Linked DNA regions of Homo sapiens: regions 1, 2, 4, 5 and 6 are each reported to be linked to region 3. The links are microRNA targets in miRTarBase. Many come from high-throughput screens and were not tested one by one. Region 3 holds a microRNA gene; each other region holds the end of a gene's coding sequence.

What was found. The annotated mature microRNA hsa-miR-3978 reads GUGGAAAGCAUGCAUCCAGGGUGU and lies in region 3 at 2,480-2,503, shown strand. An mRNA with a match to its seed (bases 2 to 7 or 8) in the 3' UTR can be bound and repressed. Matches are read on the target gene's strand: a 7mer-m8 pairs with bases 2 to 8, a 7mer-A1 pairs with bases 2 to 7 and ends in A, and an 8mer does both.
Region 1: miRTarBase lists STMP1 as a target of hsa-miR-3978. Seed matches in the 3' UTR shown: 7mer-A1 at 879-885 and 8mer at 910-917.
Region 2: the mRNA of PSMA7 is a reported target of hsa-miR-3978. Seed matches in the 3' UTR shown: 7mer-m8 at 3,004-3,010.
Region 4: miRTarBase lists SUCO as a target of hsa-miR-3978. Seed matches in the 3' UTR shown: 7mer-A1 at 1,445-1,451.
Region 5: miRTarBase lists FOXK1 as a target of hsa-miR-3978. Seed matches in the 3' UTR shown: 7mer-m8 at 700-706 and 7mer-m8 at 2,433-2,439.
Region 6: the mRNA of STEAP3 is a reported target of hsa-miR-3978. Seed matches in the 3' UTR shown: 7mer-m8 at 1,937-1,943 and 7mer-m8 at 1,835-1,841.

What each region holds. Positions count from the first base shown.
Region 1 is chr7:135,673,470-135,677,238 of GRCh38, forward strand. It overlaps STMP1 (short transmembrane mitochondrial protein 1), which reads left to right. Exons shown (of 3, transcript NM_001130929.2): 3 at 622-2,947. The coding sequence ends at 696. Among named protein-coding and RNA genes, the nearest start is that of STMP1, 13 kb to the left of the region's middle.
Region 2 is chr20:62,133,779-62,137,547 of GRCh38, forward strand. PSMA7 (proteasome 20S subunit alpha 7) reads right to left here. Exons shown (of 7, transcript NM_002792.4): 6 at 3,586-3,648; 7 at 2,955-3,171. The coding sequence ends at 3,079. It overlaps LSM14B (LSM family member 14B), which reads left to right. Exons shown (of 9, transcript NM_144703.3): 9 at 385-1,596. Among named protein-coding and RNA genes, the nearest start is that of PSMA7, 7.7 kb to the right of the region's middle. RefSeq lists an enhancer at 65-564.
Region 3 is chrX:110,079,642-110,083,410 of GRCh38, forward strand. It overlaps MIR3978 (microRNA 3978), which reads left to right and starts at 2,477; the gene lies at 2,477-2,577. The region is part of intron 3 of TMEM164 (transmembrane protein 164); the gene reads left to right.
Region 4 is chr1:172,609,482-172,613,250 of GRCh38, reverse strand. SUCO (SUN domain containing ossification factor) reads right to left here. Exons shown (of 24, transcript NM_014283.5): 24 at 1,418-3,435. The coding sequence ends at 2,992. Among named protein-coding and RNA genes, the nearest start is that of FASLG, 48 kb to the left of the region's middle.
Region 5 is chr7:4,761,910-4,765,530 of GRCh38, forward strand. It overlaps FOXK1 (forkhead box K1), which reads left to right. Exons shown (of 9, transcript NM_001037165.2): 9 at 275-3,621. The coding sequence ends at 555. Among named protein-coding and RNA genes, the nearest start is that of AP5Z1, 12 kb to the right of the region's middle.
Region 6 is chr2:119,262,261-119,266,029 of GRCh38, reverse strand. It overlaps STEAP3 (STEAP3 metalloreductase), which reads right to left. Exons shown (of 6, transcript NM_182915.3): 6 at 378-2,973. The coding sequence ends at 2,692. LOC105373581 (a long non-coding RNA gene) reads left to right here. Exons shown (of 2, transcript XR_001739666.3): 2 at 1-405. Among named protein-coding and RNA genes, the nearest start is that of STEAP3-AS1, 15 kb to the right of the region's middle. RefSeq lists a silencer at 607-706.

The sequences.
Region 1 (3,769 bases), not on the chromosome of region 3:
TACAGTTTTCTAGGCAAAGGCTACATTATGTCACATTTATTGTTTATATGTACAACCTTTACTTGGCACCAGATCGAGCGGAAGTGGGTATACAAAAGTAGAAGTGGGTTTCAGAGAAGGAGCATACTTATCTGACAACTTCTGATATCTTTCACATGCAGTTATAAGGCTAAGAAATACCACTATTGGCCGGGTGCAGTGGCTCACGCCTGTAATCCTAGCACTTTGGGAGGCCGAGGTGGGCAGATTGCTCAAGCTCAGGAGTTCGAGACCAGCCTGGGCAGTGTGACGAAAGCCCATCTTTACAAAAAATACAAAAATTAGCCAGGGGTGGTGGCATGTCCGTGGTCCCAACTACTTGCGGGATTGTGGCGGGAAGGATCACTTGAGCTCTGGAGGTCAAGGCTGCAGTGAGCTGTGTTTGCACCATTGCCCTCCAGCCTGAGTGACAGAGTGAAACCCTATCTTAAAAAAGAAAGCAAAAAGAAATAACCACTATTTAGCAGATCTCTTTTGGAGGAAGATAAAAGCTTGTAAAACCATTTATCTTTGGAGGAAGAGAAGTACAAGAATATTGATTAGGTAGATGCAAAATTATAATAACCTTTTTTCTCTTCAAAGATACCAAACCTGGCTAAAAAACTTGAAGAAATTAAAAAGGACTTGGATGCCAAGAAGAAACCCCCTAGTGCATGAGACTGCCTCCAGCACTGCCTTCAGGATATACTGATTCTACTGCTCTTGAGGGCCTCGTTTACTATCTGAACCAAAAGCTTTTGTTTTCGTCTCCAGCCTCAGCACTTCTCTTCTTTGCTAGACCCTGTGTTTTTTGCTTTAAAGCAAGCAAAATGGGGCCCCAATTTGAGAACTACCCGACATTTCCAACATACTCACCTCTTCCCATAATCCCTTTCCAACTGCATGGGAGGTTCTAAGACTGGAATTATGGTGCTAGATTAGTAAACATGACTTTTAATGAGTAGTGTCTTCTTTATCGTTTGCGATTTTTACTACCTTTTTTCAAAAGAAAAATTGATGAGTTTTGTATAGCTGGTCAGATACAAATAATAGTGACTTCACAGTTTAGTAATTATAATGGGTACTTGTTAAACATTTGGTACTAAATTATGTTGCTGCAAAGTAATTAAAATTAGTATCTAGAGCTAGTTTCTGGTGAATTATTCATTTATTTTGTACTGTTGTTAGGCAGCTCTGTAGTTGCTAATTTAACCAATAAGTCAATTTGCTATTCATGAAGAAACGATTCTGAGAATCCTGTCAGGAATTGGGGAATGAAAAAATACACAAAATAATGGTCTTTGTCCCAGTAGAGTTCATAGTCTATTTAGTGTGCATGTTTTTCCTTAATGATGTATTTGATCTGACTTTTTTCCTTCTCAAAAGAATCATACTTGGGATTACAGGTACATTTGATGTTATATGATGGATAAGTGAAAAGTTTTTAAAGGAGATTTTATACCTTTTCACATTAAAAAAGGTATTTATATTATTACTTTGTAGTGATTGTCTTAAGAAAAAATATAGCCCAAATGTATAGTAAAATCAGCAGCTCAAGAAGAATTTCTGCTTCTCTTTGTAGTTGATGCTTTGTTTTTTCCTGCAGTCAGAAATTCCTTGTATTTGTCAAATGTATAATCAGCTTGTATTGTTTTTAAATTAAAAAAAAATTTGAATAATTAACTTTTGCCATGGGACAAGATACAAAAGTAATTTCATATAAAGGGCCTCTCCCACCCCTGTTCTCTGGCTCCTGGCTCCTGTTTGACAAGTTACTGTTACCACTTCGCCTTATACTTTTGAGAAAGAGTCTGTGCCTAAACAAACACGTGTAACACAAATAGTAACTATACATGGAGGTCTAGCCCTCGCCTTTTTTTTTTCTTTTTTTCTTTTTTAATGGAGATCATTCTATACCAGCATGTAAGTAGCAAGGAACCTCATTCTTTTTTTGGCTGCCTAAAATTTTTTTGAATAGATATAACATAATTGATTTAATCTGCTACTGGTGAATGCTTAGGTTGTTCTTTTGCTATTACAGTGATAACTTCAATCCTAATGTTATTAAGCATATCGATTCAGGGTATAGCTATAAGATGAAGTCCTAAAAGTATAATTTAGACTAAATACAAATACCCATTTCGCTAGCTGTTTTGTTTCAGAGGACTTGTTGAGCAGCTTCACTAATAATGCCATTTTTGAAGACATGGCAGGTTCAGAATCAATAAACTGGAAGAATTGTTCAGAGCATCTTTTTTCAGACAGTGATGACATTGATTCTGTATATGATAAAGTGATTCTGCTTCTCTTTGACAACTTGCATCTCTCCTACATGGAAGTAAGTTTTATTCCTGTCAATGTTGTCTTTGTGTGTGACAGATTAGGATTAAATTATGGTTTGACTTTTCCTAGCAGCGTGATCATGGGCAAGTGGCTTTTTTTTTTTTTTTTTTTTGAGACAGAGTCTCACTCTGCTGCCCAGGCTGGAGTGCAGTGGCACAGTCTTGGCTCACTGCAACTCCTGCCTCCCGGTCCAAGTGATTCTCGTGCTGCAGCTTCTCAAGTAGCTGGCATCACCACCACACCTGGCTAATTTTTGTATTTTTAGTAACGACGAGGTTTCACCATGTTGGCAAAGCTGGTCTCAAATTCCTGGCCTCAAGTGATCTGCCCACTTCAGCCTCCCAAAGTGTTGGGATTACAGGCGTGAGCCACTGCGCCCAGCTTTTTTAAACTTTTAGATTCATTTAATAGGTAAATTGCATGTCACGGGTTTGTAGCTTATTCTTTCAGAAACTCTTGCATTATCTGTAGACGTGGACGTAAATATCCACCTCATAGGGTTTTCATAAAAAATAATTGAGATAATGTATGTAATGTTTCACAGTGCTTTGCAGACTATCTAATAAATAGTAGCTATTAGTACAAACTTGTTGCTTTTTGGCTAGTTCTGCAGTCACTTTTGGAATCAGTTTATGAACCACACAAAAAGTTTGTCATTATTCTGTAGTCGCTGTTTTTGATACTGATGAAAATTTACAGTATCCACCTGGATTGTACCATCTGGCTCACAAGATTTGATCTTGAATTGTTAGCACAATGAACTACAGCCTCAAAGGATGAAAGTTTACCTTGCGGGTATTAAAAATGCTAGAAGCTTAGAAAGCTGTTTCCAAAGAGGGATTCCTTGTTACCAACCATGATAGCATTGCTGTGGTGTGTGTGGTCTCCCAGAGTGGCTGCTTTGGGATTGGAGGTCACTTAGCTATTAGAAGGATAGGTCTCTTTATATTATACCTTGTAAACAAGGCTCATTTGGACTTAGGGCTTCCTTTAGAGGTGACACTTAACCTTGGCAAGGGGATCATTTCTACCAGTGGGATCCATCTAGCAGATCAGTTCTTAAATTCGGCTTCATCATGTAAACTGCTACACAGTGCAGGCTGACTTTGCATTCACCATTCAGATACCCTCTCCTAGTTTTATGTTCTTGGCAGCAGTGAAAAGGACCTCAGAGTTCTCAGGCAAGATGATCTTCACTGAGCTATATGTTGGAGGAGCCCAGAACCATCATAGTTTTAGGGTGTAGTTGAAAATCCTTACTGTGAATGGGGTTTATGGCACTGAAAGTTACCCCTTCCCTGGGAATTTTGTAGGAACCCTTGCCACACAGATCAATGGAGTGGTGGGAAGAAGCACCACAAGACAGGCCTTTTTTTTTTCCTTTAAAAAATGTTTGAAAGCTCCTACT
Region 2 (3,769 bases), not on the chromosome of region 3:
GTGAGACCTTGCTCCAAAGCCAGTGTCTTGGCCCAACCCGGCCCTAAGTGAATCAGAGGCTTCATTTTTAACCAGGTCCCAGTGGATTTGTGGGCACCTTAGGGTTTGGGCGGAGCGTCCCACATGGGGTGCCTGGTGCCAACCCCACCCAGCGCCTCGGGACAGCCAGGTGGGCCCTGGAAAGACTAGCCCTCCTGCCACTAGCTGCGTCCCTGTCCCCAGTGTATTGTACAAGTAGGATTCTCAGAGTGGGTTGTGAGAAGAATGGGGGTAGCCAGTCTGACTCTGGGGGCAGGAGGGAGGCTGAGTGGCTCCTGCTCGCCAGCAGGGGCAACAGTGCTAGCTTATCCCAGCAGATGCTTGACTTCCTGTCATCTCTTGCAGGCTCCTACTGAAGTGGCGCATAACTGACGCTGTGTGTGTCAGGACGCGAGGAAAACGCTGCACTTACAGGGAGAGGTGGTCACTTTGTTTACGGAGTTTGGAAGAGACCCATACTGCTACTTGTGTTTTGGACTTAACTGAACTTGGACATGGTCTGAGTTAGAACCACTTGTTTTGGGGAAGTATTCATGGGTAACCTCTTTGAGGTCTCTTTATCTGTGTTTCCTTTTTAGTTGCGCATAGCCTAATTCTAAGGTTTTGGTATTTTGCAAAAAGGTTTCTATAGTGAAAGCTGAATCCTTACTTTGTGACTTTTTTTTTTTTTTTTAATGACAAGCTTTGACTTTTAAAAGTGGAACCAAATCTGTTGGCAGAGGTGGCAGCCAAGTACATCTCTGTAACCCAGCTGGCCCCTGGTGCTGTTGGCCTGGCACCCCACTGCCAAGGGTGGGGTCTCAGGAGTCAGGCAGGGCCAGCACAGGGTGGCGTGGGGGGCAGGGGTGGGTGGGTGGAGGGCACGGAAGGGGTTTTCCCATGGATCATGTTGTATAAGTGAACCAGACCACCCTGATGGCATCCACAGTGATGTCAAGGTTGGGGCTGGCCAGGGGTGGGTGGACTAGAAGCATTTGGGAGTAGTGGCCAGGGGCCCTGGACGCTAGCCACGGAGCTGCTGCACAGAGCCTGGTGTCCACAAGCTTCCAGGTTGGGGTTGGAGCCTGGGATGAGCCCCGGCAGCGCCTTGGCCCTTCTGTGGTCCCTGCCAGCCTCTGACCTGGGCCGGTCAGTCATTGCTGGACTCTGGCCACACACTGGCGTTCTCATCCACTTGGAAACAAGCCAGTCTTTTCTGCAAGGTCAGTTGACCAAGAGCATATTTCCCCTCTGTTGTACATCGTTGTTTTGTGTTTGTGTTGTAACAGTGGGTGGAGGGAGGGTGGGGTCTACATTTGTTGCATGAGTCGATGGGTCAGAACTTTAGTATACGCATGCGTCCTCTGAGTGACAGGGCATTTTGTCGAAAATAAGCACCTTGGTAACTAAACCCCTCTAATAGCTATAAAGGCTTTAGTTCTGTATTGATTAAGTTACTGTAAAAGCTTGGGTTTATTTTTGTAGGACTTAATGGCTAAGAATTAGAACATAGCAAGGGGGCTCCTCTGTTGGAGTAATGTAAATTGTAATTATAAATAAACATGCAAACCTTTAAAATTTTCTTTTCTGATGCTCTAAGAATCCTGTTGACTCTTCTGCCCAAGTCACCTCTGCATCATGTCCAGGTCTGGAGCACACACTTAGGCTGGTGGAATTTGGGGAGACTTGGGCCCCATCAGGTGATGGAACGAGGTGGCTGACCCAATTGGTCGGGTGAAGTGCGGCCAGCAGACCCGGGTTCTCCCTGTGGGCCACCCTTCTGGGATGAATGGCTCTGCTCTCAGAAACTGGATACAAAGTTCTTTTAAAAACCCAGCTCACAGATAACACCTGTATCATAAGCAGTGGCCCCTTTGCCACCTTCCTGCTGCCTCCAAGCTCCCCAGCTCAGGAGCGTTCAGGTTCTCAGGCACCGTAGAGCATGTTACACAGCCATGAGCAAGCTGCACCCTGGACCCACGCAGAAAAACAAAGACATGGCTGGTTCTAGGCTCAGAGCATCCCATTTTAGTCTAATGGGTTTCCAGGTGACCTTAAAAGTGGCCCTCAGAGAGGACGAGGAGACACACCAGCTGCATGAGTTCTCCTTTCATTACCTGCCTGTGGCCATCAGGCTCCACAGCAGAACTGCCAGTGGGGGGCCCTCCCATTTCTTGGGTGGGGGTAATGGGTATCCTTGACCAGCAGAAAAATAAATGTTACGTGTGCCAGATACTGGTGGCCACAGTCCTCACCCAGCTAGAGAACTTGGTGAAACAGGTATTGCCTCCCAGAGCATCGCAAGGTAGTCAGGTTATCGTGTGCCAGCTGACCTTGCTGTTAAAATGTTCATTGTTTTGACAACTGTACATTTTACGCTGAGCTCAAAATGTATCTGGGCCCCTTTACTCCTTTTTAGAAGATACATGCCCAAAACCAAGGACCAGAGGACCCAAAAGCCTTAAACTGTGGGACTAGAAGTCAAAACACAGGAAAGGGCAGAGAATAGCCAGAACCAGTCTTCAACATAGGGGGCAGACGTCAAGATGTGGTCTATGAAAGTCAGACATGCAAAGCTGCTTTGAACAAAGCTGCTGCTCTACAGAATGAACCCAGGGCTACTTGTGTTTGTGTCCTTGACATTATACATTCATTAGGGGACTAGAATGAAGGTCTAAAAGCAAACGGAAGTCATTCTGTGTCTACAACAGAGAAACAGGTCTGCTGAAGGCCAGGTTTCTCTGCAGGACCCAGGGCAGCAGCTCTGACTTCCCAAGGGAGGAACCTGTGTCTCACACTGGCTTACTGTCTTAGCCACAAGGAACAGAAAGGAAAGCTCAATTACGGTGGCTCAGGGTTGAAAAAGAAGGGTGAGAGATGAGAGGACTGCTGTGATTGCACCTAAAGATACACATTCTCTTAAAAAAAAAAACAGGTTAAAAATACGGAAGTTTATTGTAGGACACTCAGTGTGAATAAATGGAATGGAAAGGCCTACACATCGAGACTCATCCATGATTGATATGAATTTAAAAATTACAAGCAAAGACATTTTATTCATCATGATGCTTTCTTTTGTTTCTTCTTTTCGTTTTCTTCTTTTTCTTTTTCAATTTCAGCAACATACTTCTCAATTTCTTCAGGATTTAAAATCTATAGAAAAAAACTTCATGGTTACCTAAGCCACACAAGGTGCCAAGGAACCAGCGCCCTCTTCTGGGGAGGGCGGCCAGGCTTTGGCACTGCTGCTCATACAGCCTCTTTGGAGAGGAACCTCAAGAAAAACAAGAGGATGCTGGCCTGACCTAGACAAGTATTAAGCAGCAGTAGCAGCAGCAGCAGATCTGACTGGCAGCCGCTCAGCATGCCCAGAGAACACGCGTGGACCATCTAATCAGAGGAAGATGGGAATCTTCTCTTTGACGTATGGGGAGCCTCAGAAAGACATTTTCCTAATGTTAAAACCACAGAATGGCCCTATGATGTTTCCTTCGGAACTGGTACTGCTCAGCCCTGATCATGGGAGAAAACTGACAGGTAAAGAAAGCAGACAAACTTGGTGATTACCTTGAGGGATTGATCTCGCCTCATGACAGCAAGTTCAATGTTTTTGCCACCTGACTGAACCACCTTGAAGGGACAGAAGACAGGAGCATTAACCACCTTTCCCTATTCAAGACAAAAGCAGCTCTCAGGAGTACCTTAAATAGGTGTGTACCCAAACCCAGCACCGTCCCAGGAACAGAGGTCC
Region 3 (3,769 bases):
AGTCAGAATTGTGTAAGCTGAGCCAATTGAGATGTCTGTGGTGTTGGCTATCGTTTCTGCTATTAATCATTGGTCTTCTTCAATTAAGAAATGAACAAGATACGAATTGATGTAGGTAGTCTGCCACTGCAGGCTTCATCATCAACATCTCACCCTTTCTTAAAATGATGACACTCTGGGGACTGCTGTGGGGTAGGGGGAGGGGGGAGGGATAGCATTAGGAGATATACCTAATGCTAAATGACGAGTTAATGGTTGCAGCACACCAGCATGGCACATGCATACATATGTAACTAACCTACACATTGTGTACATGTACCCTAAAACTTAAAGTATAATAATAATTAAAAAAAATGAGTTATCCTGTAAACTGCTGATTTCTTCTGGGCATTGTCTCTGTAAACTTTTTATAAAGCATAAATGATTTCACCATCCTTCCACCCAAGCTTCACTATAAATTTGATGTTTGTTCTTGCTTCAATTTTAGCAGAATTATTGTTGTTCTGGTAGGGGCTCTTTTCAAACTGGTGTCTTATCCTTCTTAGTGCCTCAAACTAGATCCTGTTCAGACATGTTAGAATAAGTTAGCACGAGTTTATTTTGGTGCTGAAAATTTGAAATCCATGCATAGTTTTTTGTAATAATATGTATTTCCCATTAACTTATTGAAGACCTGTTGTCTATTAAGTATAATAATGTAGAAAAAATAATATAGGAAAAAACACAAAGAAATCCCATGTACCTTTTACCTAATTTCCTCCACTGGTAACCTCTGGCAAAACTATAGTACAGTATCACTGCCAGGATATTTTCATTGATACGGTCTGATAAAGCAGAACAGTCCTGTCACCATGCAGATCTCTTCTGTCATTCTTTTATAGCCATACCCACCATCTACATATCTAAACCCCATCCCTGATCCCTGGCAACCATGAATCTATTCTTCATATCTATAATTTTGCTATTTTAGGAATCTTGTGTAAATATAGTTATACCTTATATTACCTTTGAGGCTGACTTTTTAAAAATCACCTAGCATAATTCCCTGGAGAGTTATCCAACTTTTTATAATACACAACATTTTTTTCTGTTTTCGAGACCACGTTTTGCTCTGTTGCCCAGGCTGGAGTGCAGTGGTGCATTCACGGCTCACTGCAGCCTTGGCCTGCTTGACTTAAGTGATCCTTCCACATCAGCCTCTCAAGTAGCTGGGACCACAGGTGTGCACCACTATGCCTAGCTAATAATTTTTTTTTTTTTTTTTTTTTTTTTTTTGTAGAGACGGAGTCTCATTATGTTGTTCACACTGGTCTGAAACTTCTGGCCTCAAGTGATGCTCCTGCCTCGGCCTCCTAAAGTGCTGAGATTACAGGAATGAGCCAACACGGTGGCTGATACACACCATCTTTAATGGGTGCATATTATTCCATTGTGTGGAAATACCATGTTGAGTTAAAAATCAGTATTTTAAAAAGTAGAGAGCCCTTAAAATACTTTAACTTTACATTAGTATTGTTCTTTACTGTTTAAAAGTTCTTTGCTTTAAATTTTCTCATCTAATCTTTAAAATAGTATTGGGGGATAGCGAATACATTATCCATACTATAAATAGAGCAGTAGGGGACCAAGAAATATTATATAACTTGGCTAAGATTACTTCGTGGCAGAGTCAGGATTCCTATTCTTTCTTCTCTTGCCAGTGATCATAACATAATCAGGTTTACTGTGTGCCTAGGCATGGTGGGAAACACTTAACATTGATTATTTTATTTAATCCTTCTAACAAAACTGTGTGGGAAGTACTAATAGTAGTACTGGTACTATTAATAGTAGTTTGGTCAAGAGAACTGGGGCTCAGAAAGTTTACATGACTGGATGTGGCTTGCATGTGGTACATGCAGGATTTGATCCAAAGTTTCTCTCACTCCAGAGCCCATGCTGCTAATCATGACCTTGTGTTGCTGAAGTGAATATTTTCTACTATCCCATTGTTGTTTAAATTGTTAAAAGTATGAAAGCATCTTATTTAAAATTCCCTATGTCTCAGTATACATGGATGAGCTCTGTTGTGATCTTTATGCCCGTGTGTTCTTTGGGTTTGTTGACTAGCATCATATACCTATCTCTCTTGCTTTCTCTATGGGCCCTTTGCTGTGCCAGCCACACATGAGTTTACCAGCTTCCCAGCTAACCAGGGGCCAGCATGTTCTTCCTGGAGGCATGCCCAGCCACTATAGGAAAGGGGTATGACGTGTGCAGCAGGCTGCATGTCCTGTGCTTGGCAAAGGCTGGCAACTCCCACTGGGGTGGAGAAGGGACAGGATTCTCCACATGGTTCCCATGGTACACTTGACAAGAGGGAATGATAGTACCACAGTGTTATGTCTGGGTCCTGGAATGCTTCATTTATATGTACCTCAGTTGACATGTGACTTGCTCAGTCCTGCTGCTATAGCCTGCTGCTGGAAGGGCTGCCTCAGTGGAAAGCATGCATCCAGGGTGTGGAGCCAAAATTAGAAGGGCCAAAATTCTACCTGGCCCACTACCACAGCAACCTTGGGCATCGTTTTCTTTTGATCTCTAGTATCTCCAACTCCTAGAATTCCAGCCTGGCAGTCTTCTGCCTCTGAAGGCCTCTTATCCTTCCTGTTCTTGGCTCCTCTTCTCTGTGAATGCTTACATAGCAGCGTCAGAGTTGTTTGTTGTATTGTGTCTGTACATGCAGTGCTGTTCTGTATCTCTTTGAATCTGAGCCATTTTCTTTTGACTCATTTGGCTGATGTGAATGGTACTTTCCTGAAGAGCTATCTACCAGTGCCGTTGACATCCAAGCCACAGAATTCTTTTCCTCACTTCGGTTTGAATAAAACCAACATATCCTTAGGGATGGTTTTGCACTTACTATCCTGCTACTAACTTGGAAAAACGTTACATGTCTCATTCATCTTAGGGAACCGACCCAGTCCCAAAATATGAACTAGCCTGCCTCACCAGTTATTAACAAATAAGATTTCCTTTTGAAAACCTCAGGGATAGGATAAAGGACTGTGTTGCAGTGTAACCAGACCTCCCCCTCACCCCCCAGTTCCCCCAACACATCTCACATCTCACTGGTGGCTTCTCTTTTCTTTTTCCCTTGCCTTTTGTGTCAGTTTTTTTTTCTTTCAAATATCATTATGGGTAATTTGGAACATATACATAATATGGTGGTTACTTATATCTATTAGCTATTTACATATTTTATTCTGTAGATTGTCAGCTCATGGTCTCTGCTGAATTTTGATGTACAGGTGTTTCCCTTGTTGATTTGTATGAGTTTTACATATATAAAGAGTGTTAATCTTTTATCACTTTTGCAGTAAATGTTTTCCCCAGATTGTCTTCTAACTTTTTAATGATGCTTTTGATAATAGATTTGGTTTACATTTTTATTGGTCAAATTGATTGATTTCTAAACCCCCTTCAGATCATGGTAATTTCTTCCATTGCTTTTACACTTGAAAAGACATTTCCCATTCTAAGGTTAGAATGGGATTTAAAACAATCCAGTTTTAAAATAGTTTTAAAAATATTTAACTTGTCAGTCCATCAAAAATTCATTTTGTGACTAGTATGAAGTAGAGTATAGCTTATATTTTCCCCTAGAGAGTCATTTATTTGAGCACCATTCATCAAATAACTATTTTCCTATGATTATTGCTATTATACTTTTATCATACATAAATTCTTCTATATGCTAGGATTTTTTCAGCTTGTATTATTCATTGAT
Region 4 (3,769 bases), not on the chromosome of region 3:
AGGAAAAAATATGCTACAGTATTTAGGGGGAAAGGGTCATAATGTCCCAACTTGCTTACAAATGGCTCACCAAAAGATGTTTCTTTATATATATACACATAACACACATACATATCTTTATACATACATATATACATATAATACACATATACATATAAAACACATACACATGAAGAAAACTAAAAAGATTAGCAACTGGTGAATCTGGGCAAAGGCACATGGTGTTCAACTTATCTACAGATTTGAAATTTTTTAAATCAATCAGTTGAAGAAAAGCAGTACTTCTAAGTTGTCCTGTTGTGTGATTTTGAATAGACTTATCCAATTACATTAACCAATATAAGTTTATATCTATCTCATGTTCATGCGTACAAGTTTGTATATTCAAACTGAGGACACATCTAAAAATGGAAAAATAAGCAGCAAGGTAAGGGAAGCACAATAACTGCAGACGGAATAAAAAATGTTTGCCACTGGGAAGCAAGAAATCTTTGGTAGAGAAAGATGGGTGGTACTGGTAGTGTGTGTGTGTGTGTGTGTGTGCGTTGTGTGTGAGTGAAATGGTACAGAATAGAGAACTGTTTTCTGTTCTTACTTTATAAGCCTTATAAAACTAATTTATCAAATTATATGTATGCATAACTTTTTTTTTTTGAGACAGTCTCACTCTGCCACCCAGGCTGGAGTGCAGTGGTGCAATCTCAGCTCACTGCAACCTGTCTGCCTCCCAGGTTCAAGCAATTCTCCTGCCTCAGCCTCCTGAGTAGCTGGGACTACAGGCATGTGCTACCATGCCCGGCTACTTTTTTTTAATTTTTATTAGAGACGGGTTTTCACCATGTTGGTCAGGCTGGTCTCGAACTCCTCAAATGATCCCCTGCCTCGGCCTCCCAAAGTGTTAGGATTATAGGCGTGAGCCACAACTTTAATGTTTTTAAAAATTCAATTAAAAGAATTGTTTTACTTTGCATCCTTGTTCTTACCAATTCCCTAGTTTCCTTTTATTTCATACTGTTTTAATGCTTTACTTAACATTAGAAGAAATAAAATGAGGTTGATCATCAGGGAACACTAAAAATCCCATTGGATAAATATCTATATAGTTTTTGCTTCTTAATAGGCATAAATCTATTATTTTCACTTAAGTTTTTTTTCTCATGTAGTTATGTGAGAGAGGAAAAAATAAACCTCATGTTACAAAATGTTATGCTGTATTTAGATATGAAAAACTGAAATTCTGATAGCATAGGGAGCAAAATGTTTATGTAAAAGTACCATCATTTTGTAGTTGGCTGAAATGTGATCAATATTGAATGGAATGCTGCTATATTTAACTTTAAAAGTGGCAAAAACTTAAATCTCTGTTCAAAGATTAATAATTTCTGAGTTCTCTTTTAAAAGACAGAAGAGCCAGTAATTAATAAAGACAAGTGTTCAGATTTATTTGGAAATTCACAGTTTCTAATGGCACTACAGCTCCGTAGTTACATATTGAAAATTCTCTTCCCACAACACACAGATCACATAATTTCTCACTGTATCTCTGCTCTCATCTGGACCTCTTTTCAAGGGGCTTCTATAAAATCAGGCCCTCTTGCTCTGAATAGCTAATTGTGCAGACAGGAAAGAAATTTAAATCTTCTAAAACACGCTGTTAACCTAAAGCAGCAACTTAAACAAACAAAAAAGGCGTTAAATAAGTCACATTACAAACAATACCCAAGAAAGGTATTAGGCAAGTTTAAAAACAGTTATCACTACTAAAAGTGCTCAATAAGTTATAACTTAAACATCACAACAATAAATGGTCAATTCTCTCCCTTTCAAAAAGAAACATGTTCCACTTTCATTCATTACTGTACAATCATACTAAGAAATCATTTTATTCAAATACAGTTGCTGCCAATTATTTTTTAAAGACAAAAAAAAAGACAGAGACATCGACATCACATATGTATTACCTCTGCACATTTGTAGCCAATACAAAGCAAACATCAAGGAATAATAATCTCTTTAGACTTAACCAATTAGATTAAGCTTGACAAACTCACTAACTGGATCTGTGCATATGTATGCAGGCAGTGATTATATCATGAGACTTGTACTAATTGGCCAAACCTTCAAATTTTATATTCATACTAATAAAAACAGTGAAAGTTTGGAGGATTAGTGTTTATTGTGTATGTTTAAAATGTAAGCTAAAGAAAACCTTCACAAATGGTTAAGTGTGTTTAAAAGGTGAATTTGTCAAAAATTTGTCTGCATATATCAGTTGTTTGCAAAAAAAGATCCTGTAGGGATTTTTCCTCATTGAGTTAGTAACTAAGTAAGAAGTAATCCAGTCTGAATAAGTGAAAATAACAAGAGCATCACCATCTACCTAACAGAACAGACTTAAAAATTCCATTAAGTGTTCATTTCCAGTGAGTTTGCTAAACAAAGATCCAGTTGGCAAGTTTTTAGGATCTTTAGACTGTCTGATCCACACTCCTGAGCTTCAGGCACAGACCCCCTCAAAGCATTGTAGTGTTTGCAGCTTCAAAAACCTAACAAAGTTATAAAAGAAATCAAATAACAGAAAAAGTTATCCCTCCTCTTCCAGTGGCATTATAAATAGACAAAAGGCACATAAATATGGGAAGGTGCAAGAAATAGGAACAAAGCTAAAGGAAGAGGTTTAGGCTTTCATTCCTATCCCACCTAAGGAACTGGGCTTCCAAATTACTTTTGTCCCAGTAATTAATCTTGTGAAAAAACATCTTTATAAAATGTCTACCATTGTCCTTATAGGAAGTGATCAGCTTTGTAAAACTGTAGCTCATTAACCAAGATTGACACAATCCCATCTACTTTTTAAAAAGGTAGAAACCATAATTTCTGAATGCCTTTCCCATTAATATTTTCTCCCTCCCCCAAACCCTTCAAATACTACAGACTGTTCTTCAAAGAACAACAACAAAAAAGTCTTCTGTATGAAAAGTTCAATTAATTTTAGATATGTCCCGAGACTGCTGTAACACCAAATGTTCCCACGGTGATCTCTTTGTTTCCTTTGATTATGTCATGCAGGCTCGGCAATGATCCCGACTTAGTCTGTATTAGAGTTTTTATCAATTTTCCTTGGTCTTGGACTTTAGATCGTCTTCGTTTTAAAGCCCTCTTCTCAGTTTTTGTCTTTTGAGACTGTCCATTGCACAGACTTGTGCAAGCTGAAATGCCACAAAAATAGGACTCTTCTGACTGTGATGAAGTTTCTGAGCTTCCTTCAGATGGAGGACCTTTATAAGAAGAGTGATAAACTTCTCCCATATTAGAAAAATCTCTCTGGTTCGTAAAGGGCTTTCTTCCTTTTATGTCGCCATTGGCTATGGGGTGCAATGGTTCTTCAGGCTTTATGGTCTCAATTTTTTCAATTTTGTACTTGCAGCGCTTCTTCTACAACACAAGTAAAAGAAAAGTTAGTAATGATACTTCCCATAGTAACCTTATCAAACACCTAGAGAGCTGAGCTAATAGAGAAGTGCCACCTCCTGGTGAAAAGTAAAACAGTATTATAAACAGCACAGAACACATACATTGTTATGTTCTATATAGATACTAGCATCATCTTCCCATTTTGTAAATACTACTGAATCAAAACTCTTTAAATTGCTTACCTGCTACCTATGAATATAGGTTTAGGGAGTGATACTAATATCTGAATACCTACTAACTGCCAGAGAGCATACAGGTTGCTTTCATGTATTATGGCAGCTATTAACCCTGAAAG
Region 5 (3,621 bases), not on the chromosome of region 3:
AGGAGTGAGGCAAGCCGTCGATGTCCAGCAGGATCTAGACAGCAATGAGAGGGGCCTCCACCCAACAGGCTGGAGCCAGCAGAGACAGGGCAGATGAGGTGGGGAGGGGACGGCAGGGCCCGCAGGGAGCAGAGCAAGGGTAGCCGTCCTGCCTGGCAGGGGTGCACTGACCTCCGGTTCCGGCTTGGTGGCTTAGCCCCTGTATAGGGGACTTGAAAAAAGCAGCTGGGTCCTAACCAGACCCCAGAGTAACCCTCTTCTTCCTCCACTCCAGCCCTCACCAGCCCTTTGCAGCTCCTTGCGACCCAAGCGAGTTCATCCGCGCCGGTGGTGGTCACCCGGGTGTGCGAGGTGGGGCCCAAGGAGCCAGCAGCAGCCGTCGCGGCCACGGCCACCACCACCCCAGCCACTGCCACCACCGCCTCTGCCTCCGCCTCTTCCACTGGAGAGCCCGAGGTCAAAAGGTCCCGGGTGGAGGAGCCCAGTGGTGCTGTAACCACACCGGCTGGAGTGATCGCAGCTGCCGGCCCCCAGGGGCCAGGCACCGGGGAGTGAGGTCACCTGCAACGCGGGGGAGTGGGACTCACCCAGCGGCGACCCCGAAGCTGGACCCGGCAGCTCAGGCGGCCGCACCCACAGACGGAGGAGAACAGCCCGCGGCGGCCTGTGGGCATCGGCGGCACCTGGACACACCCAGCCCTTTCCATTTGATCGCCTGCCTTCCCGTGGTTTAAGACAAAAACACATAAACAAGTTCAGACAACTGATTGTATGATTCTGGGAATTCTTTGCTTTCCTTTCCTTCTCCCTCGGCACCACCTCCTCTCCCCAGGCCTCCCTGTCGGGCATGGGGAGGAGGTTGGAGCTCAGCATCTTGAGGAATGTGTCAAGACAGCCCCTCCGCTCCGCGCTGCACGGCCAGCCGCCTTTGTCCGGGAGGACAGACAGAAACGCAGCAAGGCACACACCAAGGCTGCCGGGGAGGCCCGGGCACCGGACAGATGCCTGTTGGGAAGCCAGGAGCTGCCGAGCCACGGACCACCTAACAGCCTCTCCGCCCGGAACGTGACATAGAGAGTGTTGGCATTAACTCGGGGGGTGTCCGATTTCACTTCAGACCCCAAGTTTTTCTTTGTTTGTTTAAACATGGAATTCAGACTTCATTGTACACCTGAGACAGACACAAAAGGGATCATGTATTTTTGAGGATTTTACCTGTTGACGTCTGATGACCGGCCGTAGGTCCAGGGTTCCCGCTGGGTTTAATCCCCTCGAAGAGTAAACCTGCCGCTCTGTCTGATAACTTCAAGTAAGAGCAGCGGCTTCCTGGGTTGGCGTTCGCGGTGGAAGGTTCCTAGGATGAAAGGTGAGCCTGGATCCGCCGGCCGCAGACATCGCGCTGCTGGGGACGATTGGGGCCGCTGCTCTGCAGACCAGACCTTCCCGAATTATCCGTGGCTCCGATGTCCCGGTGCTGACGGCCACATGGGGACCTAACAGTGCCAAACGCCATCTGCTCCAGCTGCTTTTTCACCCAGTTGCAGAGTCCTCACCACTCCCACATTGATCTGCTGTTTTCAATTGGAACCATTTCTCCTGCCTGAAACTCCAGGGCCCCTCCCTGGGCTGTCCGTGAGCAGGAGACCCCACCCCAGCAGCAGTGGTGAGCAGGCCTGTGCCTCCACGCCCAGCCCCCGCCAACGCGACTGGTTTTGTTTGCCACACGGTGAGAACCGGAGGACGGGATGCTCCAGCCAGTTGGGTGGTTCTGGGGTCCCTGAGGAAGCCCCCTCCTGCACTTCCATTAAGACAGCCAGTGGTTCCTGGATCTTTGTCACCAAGCAGCGTTGAGCCAGAGCTGTCTAATGCTGAGCCCAGCTCAGGAAGGAGAGAGGAGTCCTTCAGTGTGTCTTGGAGATGCGAAGTGCGTCCTCGTAAAGGTCAGCTGTCAGTTTTGCTGGCCGCTCCGGCGCTGGCTCTCCTGTCCGGGACCACAACGAGAAACAGCGACAGATTCGACGCAGAGCTCCGGAAGTGCCTGAGGAGCAGTGGTTCTTGGAAATCGCCCGTCCTCCGCATCACAGCCTCTCACCAGCAAAGCAGCCTCTGCCCAGGCCCTGGCGGGAGAGCTGCAGAGGGACCCAGGTGCCTGGAGGGCATTTGAGGGAGGTGGCTGGACAGGTGTCTCCCTGAAGAAGAAGGGAGAACACTTTTCAAAGTGATTCCGAGGCAGTGCGGGAGGACACACGTGCTGTGCAGTGGAGTGGGGTCGCCCGTGGCCCCCATCAGAGTCCCCGTCCCCCAGGACAAGTGCAGAACCTCTGTGGGCCCCCTCCTTCCACCTAGATAGAGAAAACCCCTTGTTCGGTTTCCTTCCCGTGTCCCGTTGTTTTTCTAAGCCCCCCGAATTGAGTCGTTTCTATGGCACTAACCTTTCCATGGGAAATAAGCTCTTTGTGGAAGTCCGTACCTGTTGCCCTGGGTGAGGTTTCAGAGAAACGGGGGCAGGATGAACACAGCCGGCTGTCCTGGGTGCAGTTACGTCCGTGGAGGGTGAGAGATTGCGCCCCGTTCCACACTTGTGTCGCCTGCTGTTGTCTGTGGGCCTTTTCTTTCCGTGGTGCCTGGTGTGTGCGTGCATGGCGTGAGAGAACGGGGGGTGGGGGTTGGAGGTGGCTCCCCGACACCGGTGCCTGTGTGGCCTGAGCCGGCGCCCTCCCGGGAGCGCCCGTCACGGGGGGCCTCTGTGATTACCTGCTGCTGCTCTCTCCCGCGTGGTGACTATATGTCCTCAGGGCTGCCTGTGGCCACCCTGATGGGAGACCTCTGTTTGCTTCTGGGCCACTGCAGGTTGGCCTCCTCAATACAAGCTGATGTCTGCAGGGAGCGCCGCGTGCTGGGATTGCACCACGTGTTGGTCACAAATCGAGGTCGCCTTTTGGCCTGGTCTGCTCAGGCTGGCCCTGACCCACGTGGTTTCCTGGCTTCTGAGACGCAGCGCATTCTTCCTGTTAGCGGTAGCGTTCTCTGATTTCACTGCTTCATTGCCAAGGGCGTGGAAAGGGGGTGGTGGATGGAGCCGGGAGGTGGCGAGCACAGGACCCCGGGGCTGCATTCTGCCGTGTGGGGTTCTGCACTGTCTAGCTTCTGCGGGGACTGCAAAGAGGGATGAAGGGACGTGGTCCTAGGGGTCGGCTCAGACTCGGAGCAGGGCAGGGAGAGGAGGGCAAGGAGAGGAGGCCTGGGTCCTGGATCCACTGCTCTGGGCTCATAACCATGAGATTTTGAAAGAGTTTTTGGTCATCTGAGCAGGTACCATGCCTGGCTCATGCCGGAACTTGTCTTGGAACCGGTAGCCAGAGGCCCAGGAAGGGACAGGGCCCAAAAGGGTTGCATGTCCCGGCCACAAAGCCCTCCCTGTGTGCCCTGAGCCAGCCCAGCAAGCGCCTCCCAGCCAGGCGCTTTCGCAGAAGCAAGAGCACAGGCCAGGGGGACCGGGAGAGCCTCAGCCCCCAGCCTGGGCGGCCTGTGACCCTGAGCCGTGTGGAGCCAGGACCCAAGAACCTTCTCTAGGTTCTCAAGGGTGAGCTGACCCGGGCAATGTGCAGGAATGTGGGGAGC
Region 6 (3,769 bases), not on the chromosome of region 3:
TCAGAACCCGCATTCGAACCACATTCCTAGGTGACTCCCAGGCACATTATAATTCAAGAAGCTCTGCTGCTTTTACCTGCACCGAGGCCTCAGCCTTCAGACCACTCCAGGAAGCCACCTTTTCACATCCCCACACCCCCACCCGACACTCTGTCACCTGGATCTTGCCCATTTCCTCCCTGGCATGTCCCTTAGTCCCTTAGGTCTGCACATCTGCCCTTCCTCATTGGCCAGCTCTAGCACAGATCACTGTGTTCACCTTGGCAGTCCCAAGTCCTTGCACACTGCCTGCCTGAGAGCAGGCTCCAAGCTGAAGGCTTCTCGAGTCAGTGGACGAATGGATACGTGATCTACATGGCAGAAATAAAAGCCTGAAGTTTGCAGAAGGTTAGGTGTTTATTTGCACTGCTTTTATACTGTCTACCAGGTTAAAAAAAAAAAACAGAGACTCTTTTGAAGGCATAGATTTTAGATATCAACCTCAGACTGTGGCATTTGGGATTTCCAGAGCATGTCGTTGAGGCACTTTTGTACCCAGAGGCACATGGAATTTACCAGGCTGTGGAGATGATGTGCTCTCGGGATGCTGCTGCCAGTAGCCTGGTGAGGTAGGGAAGACAGCAGTGGACGCACAGTCAGGGCCCAGTACACAGCCCGCCTGCCTTTCGTGTGATTGTCCAGCAGGTGGCACCTGTTCCCTCCTGCCACCCACCTTATAATTGCTTCCCTCTTGAGCACCTTCAGCCAGAGGTGGGTGGGAAGGGGAGGACGTGCACTGGGTTCTGCTATGTGCCAGCATCTTTGGTATAAGGAGCCATTCCCTGGCCCAGGGCAGGCAGCCAGTACCCACCGGGGTTGGGGATCATTGGTGGGTCTCCATTGCCCATGCTCTCCCTGCCTCTCATTAGTAGGGAATCGATGGGCCCTTGTTATGCCAAGGCAATGCTAAAATCTCTGCTTTACCTGCCCCCTTCTCAGCAAGGCTCTCTGTGGGCCACAGCTGATGCTCCATCAGTGCCAATTTATGAGACAAGTTTCTGCCGCTCAGCCTTGGCACAGCAGATGGAAAATACCTGCAGGAAGAGCTTCCCCGGCATGGCCTTCCCTGCATCGGTCATGTGCCTAATGAGCTATCCTTGCAGTGGGCTCTTCTCCTGCTTTTCACTGAAGAACCCTTATGTGCTGCATAGACATGAGCTCATGAAACCTCCCTGGCGGGGGGGGGGCAGGGGCAGCCTCATCTGTGACATTCTCTCTGGGCAGCCTTCACTGGCCCTACTCTCTTCCTTCCATCAGAAGATGGCTTTGGGCCCAGGAGACTCATGAAGACCTCACCCTCTTTGTCTTCAAAGATGCTTTTTCTGTGGCAGATCAACCTGGTTCTGCAGAGGGTTGGGGGCTCAGCCGAGAACACCTGTTTCTTCACAGGGGAAGTAAGCTAGAGTCAGTAGGGAGCAGCAAGGATGGCCTGTGACTGGAGGACAGACGTCCTGTGGCCCCGGCGGTGCTCTTCCCTCTTGTGCTTTGGGGCAGCAGCATTTTAGGTTTGTAGCTTTGGTGGAAAAGTTGCTCCCCACTGTTTTGAAGTGTAATGCCCCATGAGGAGGAAGTTGGAGCCAGTGTGGTTTTCTGGGTCCTCTGCCAGAGGACATTTGGAGTCCCCAATATTTTTCCTCAGGACTGACTTCGTGAAGACAGTCCTTCAGCCCAGGCAGGGCTCAACTCTGACGCCCGGGGAGCTTTACTCCCTAGAGTGTTTTCTCTTGCTCTCCCCCTTGGGCTGATTTCTAAAGGGTCTGCTCTAGGCCTTCCTGGGAGTCATTCAAACTGAAGATGGAAAGGGTGAGAAGGCACAGTGGTTTAAAGGACGCTCATCGCCAGGTTAAAGGAGGGAAGGAAATTACACTTGTTCCCAAGCCAGGCTCACTAATGGCTCTGGAAAGGAGGTGACGTCACTCTCACAGGAGGATCCATTTGCAGGCTCTATGGTGACTTCTGACTTTCAGGGAAAATGTCTCCCCCACTCAGCAAGGATGAGGTGGAGCAGCTTCAGCCCAATCCCTCCATCCTCCCACCACCGGGCAAAGGACCAGGCACAGACTCCAGGCCGACTGCCTGATTTTCCTCCTCCCCAGGCCTCCTGCTGCTGCCCCAGGTGGAGGGAAGAGACCAGCCGCTGCTCACATGCTCCAGGGATGGCTCTGGGCAGAGCCGTTGCCTTCCCTCCCCTTCAGAGCCCTAGCTCTGCAAGAGCCTTGGGGAAGTAGCAAAAGGGAAGTTGTGGGGGTGGGGTGGGCAGGGATAAATCGAACCCACCACAGCACAAGCCTCTTCTGTACAAAAAGTGTGTGTATATCTCTGCAAATGTCACAATAGCATGATCTGCTCTTCTCTTAACGTACGGCACTTGTTTTTAAATCTACAAGTTGAAATCTCAGAGACCCAACTTTTTAGCTAGCTATGTATAATTGCAAATCCTGTTATATATGTGGAATATATGTAAATACATATACACATATGTGTGTATATCATTCTGAATAGTACTGCATACATTTGAGTCCCAGGAATTTGGACCTCAAACCTCCTATTTGCACACAGTTATACCACTTTGCACCACCAAGAAAAGAAAACCTAACGGGCTCAGGGCACCGTCCCTCGTGTGCCCGGGGTCCAGAGCCCAGGGCAGGCACCTCATACGTGGCTCGTCTTCTCGGCCAGGGCGTGGTCTGTGGGCAGCGTGAACTTGATGGTGCTCTCCCTCTCCCAGCCTCTCCGGATCCTGGCGAGTCTGCGGCTGATGCAGGGCAGGAGAAACAGGGCTTTGGCCAGGATGACGACGCAGGGCACCAGCAGCGTGAGCGTGAAGGTGGGAGGCAGGTAGAACTTGTAGCGGCTCTCCTCGAAGGCGCGGGTCCAGCCGTAGGTGAGCGTGTGCAGTGTGCTCAGCACGAGGGCCACAAAGCCCAGTGAGGACTGTGGAGGGAAAAAAAGGCTGGAGTGAGGGCGAGGGGATGACAGATGCAGTGATCCTGCCAACGACTCATCTGCTGGCCTGGCGGAGGGGAAGGAGGGTGGCTTTAGTACTCACCGCTATGGGTTGGAACCCCAGTCCTGTCACTCTCTTAGTGTGATCTTATGATAACTCTCAACTCTCTGTGCCTCAGCTTCCACAACAGGAAAATGGGAATAATGCTTCTATGCTGAAGGTGTCTAAGGACCCACCAATTCACACGGATTCCATACAATAACTATATGACCATGCTTTTTCCTTAACTTTGTTATTTGTTATCTCTGGAGGCTGCTGGATGATTTCAGATGGAATTAAGTTCAAAGAAGTTTAAAAAACATTTAAGGCCTGCTGCGGTGGCTCTCGCCTGTAATCCCAACACTTTGGGAGGCCTAAGTGGGTGGACTGCTTGAGCCCAGGGGTTCAAGACCACCCTGGGCAACATAGTGAGACCCTGTTTCTACAAAAAATACAAAAAAATTAGCCAGGCTGTGGCAGCATGTGCTTGTTGTCCCAGCTACTTGGGAGGCTGAGATGGGAGGATCACTTGAGCCCAAGAGGTCAAGGTTGCAGTGAGCCAAGATTGTGCCACTGCACTACTGCACTCCAGCCTGGGTAACAGAGCAAGACCCTGTCTCTAAATATATATATACATATACATGTATATGTGTGTGTGTGTGTGTGTGTATAAATTTTACTAGTTATGTGTGTATTTTAATGTATATTAGAGTAACAAGTGTCTGCTTGCATACCAAAATCATA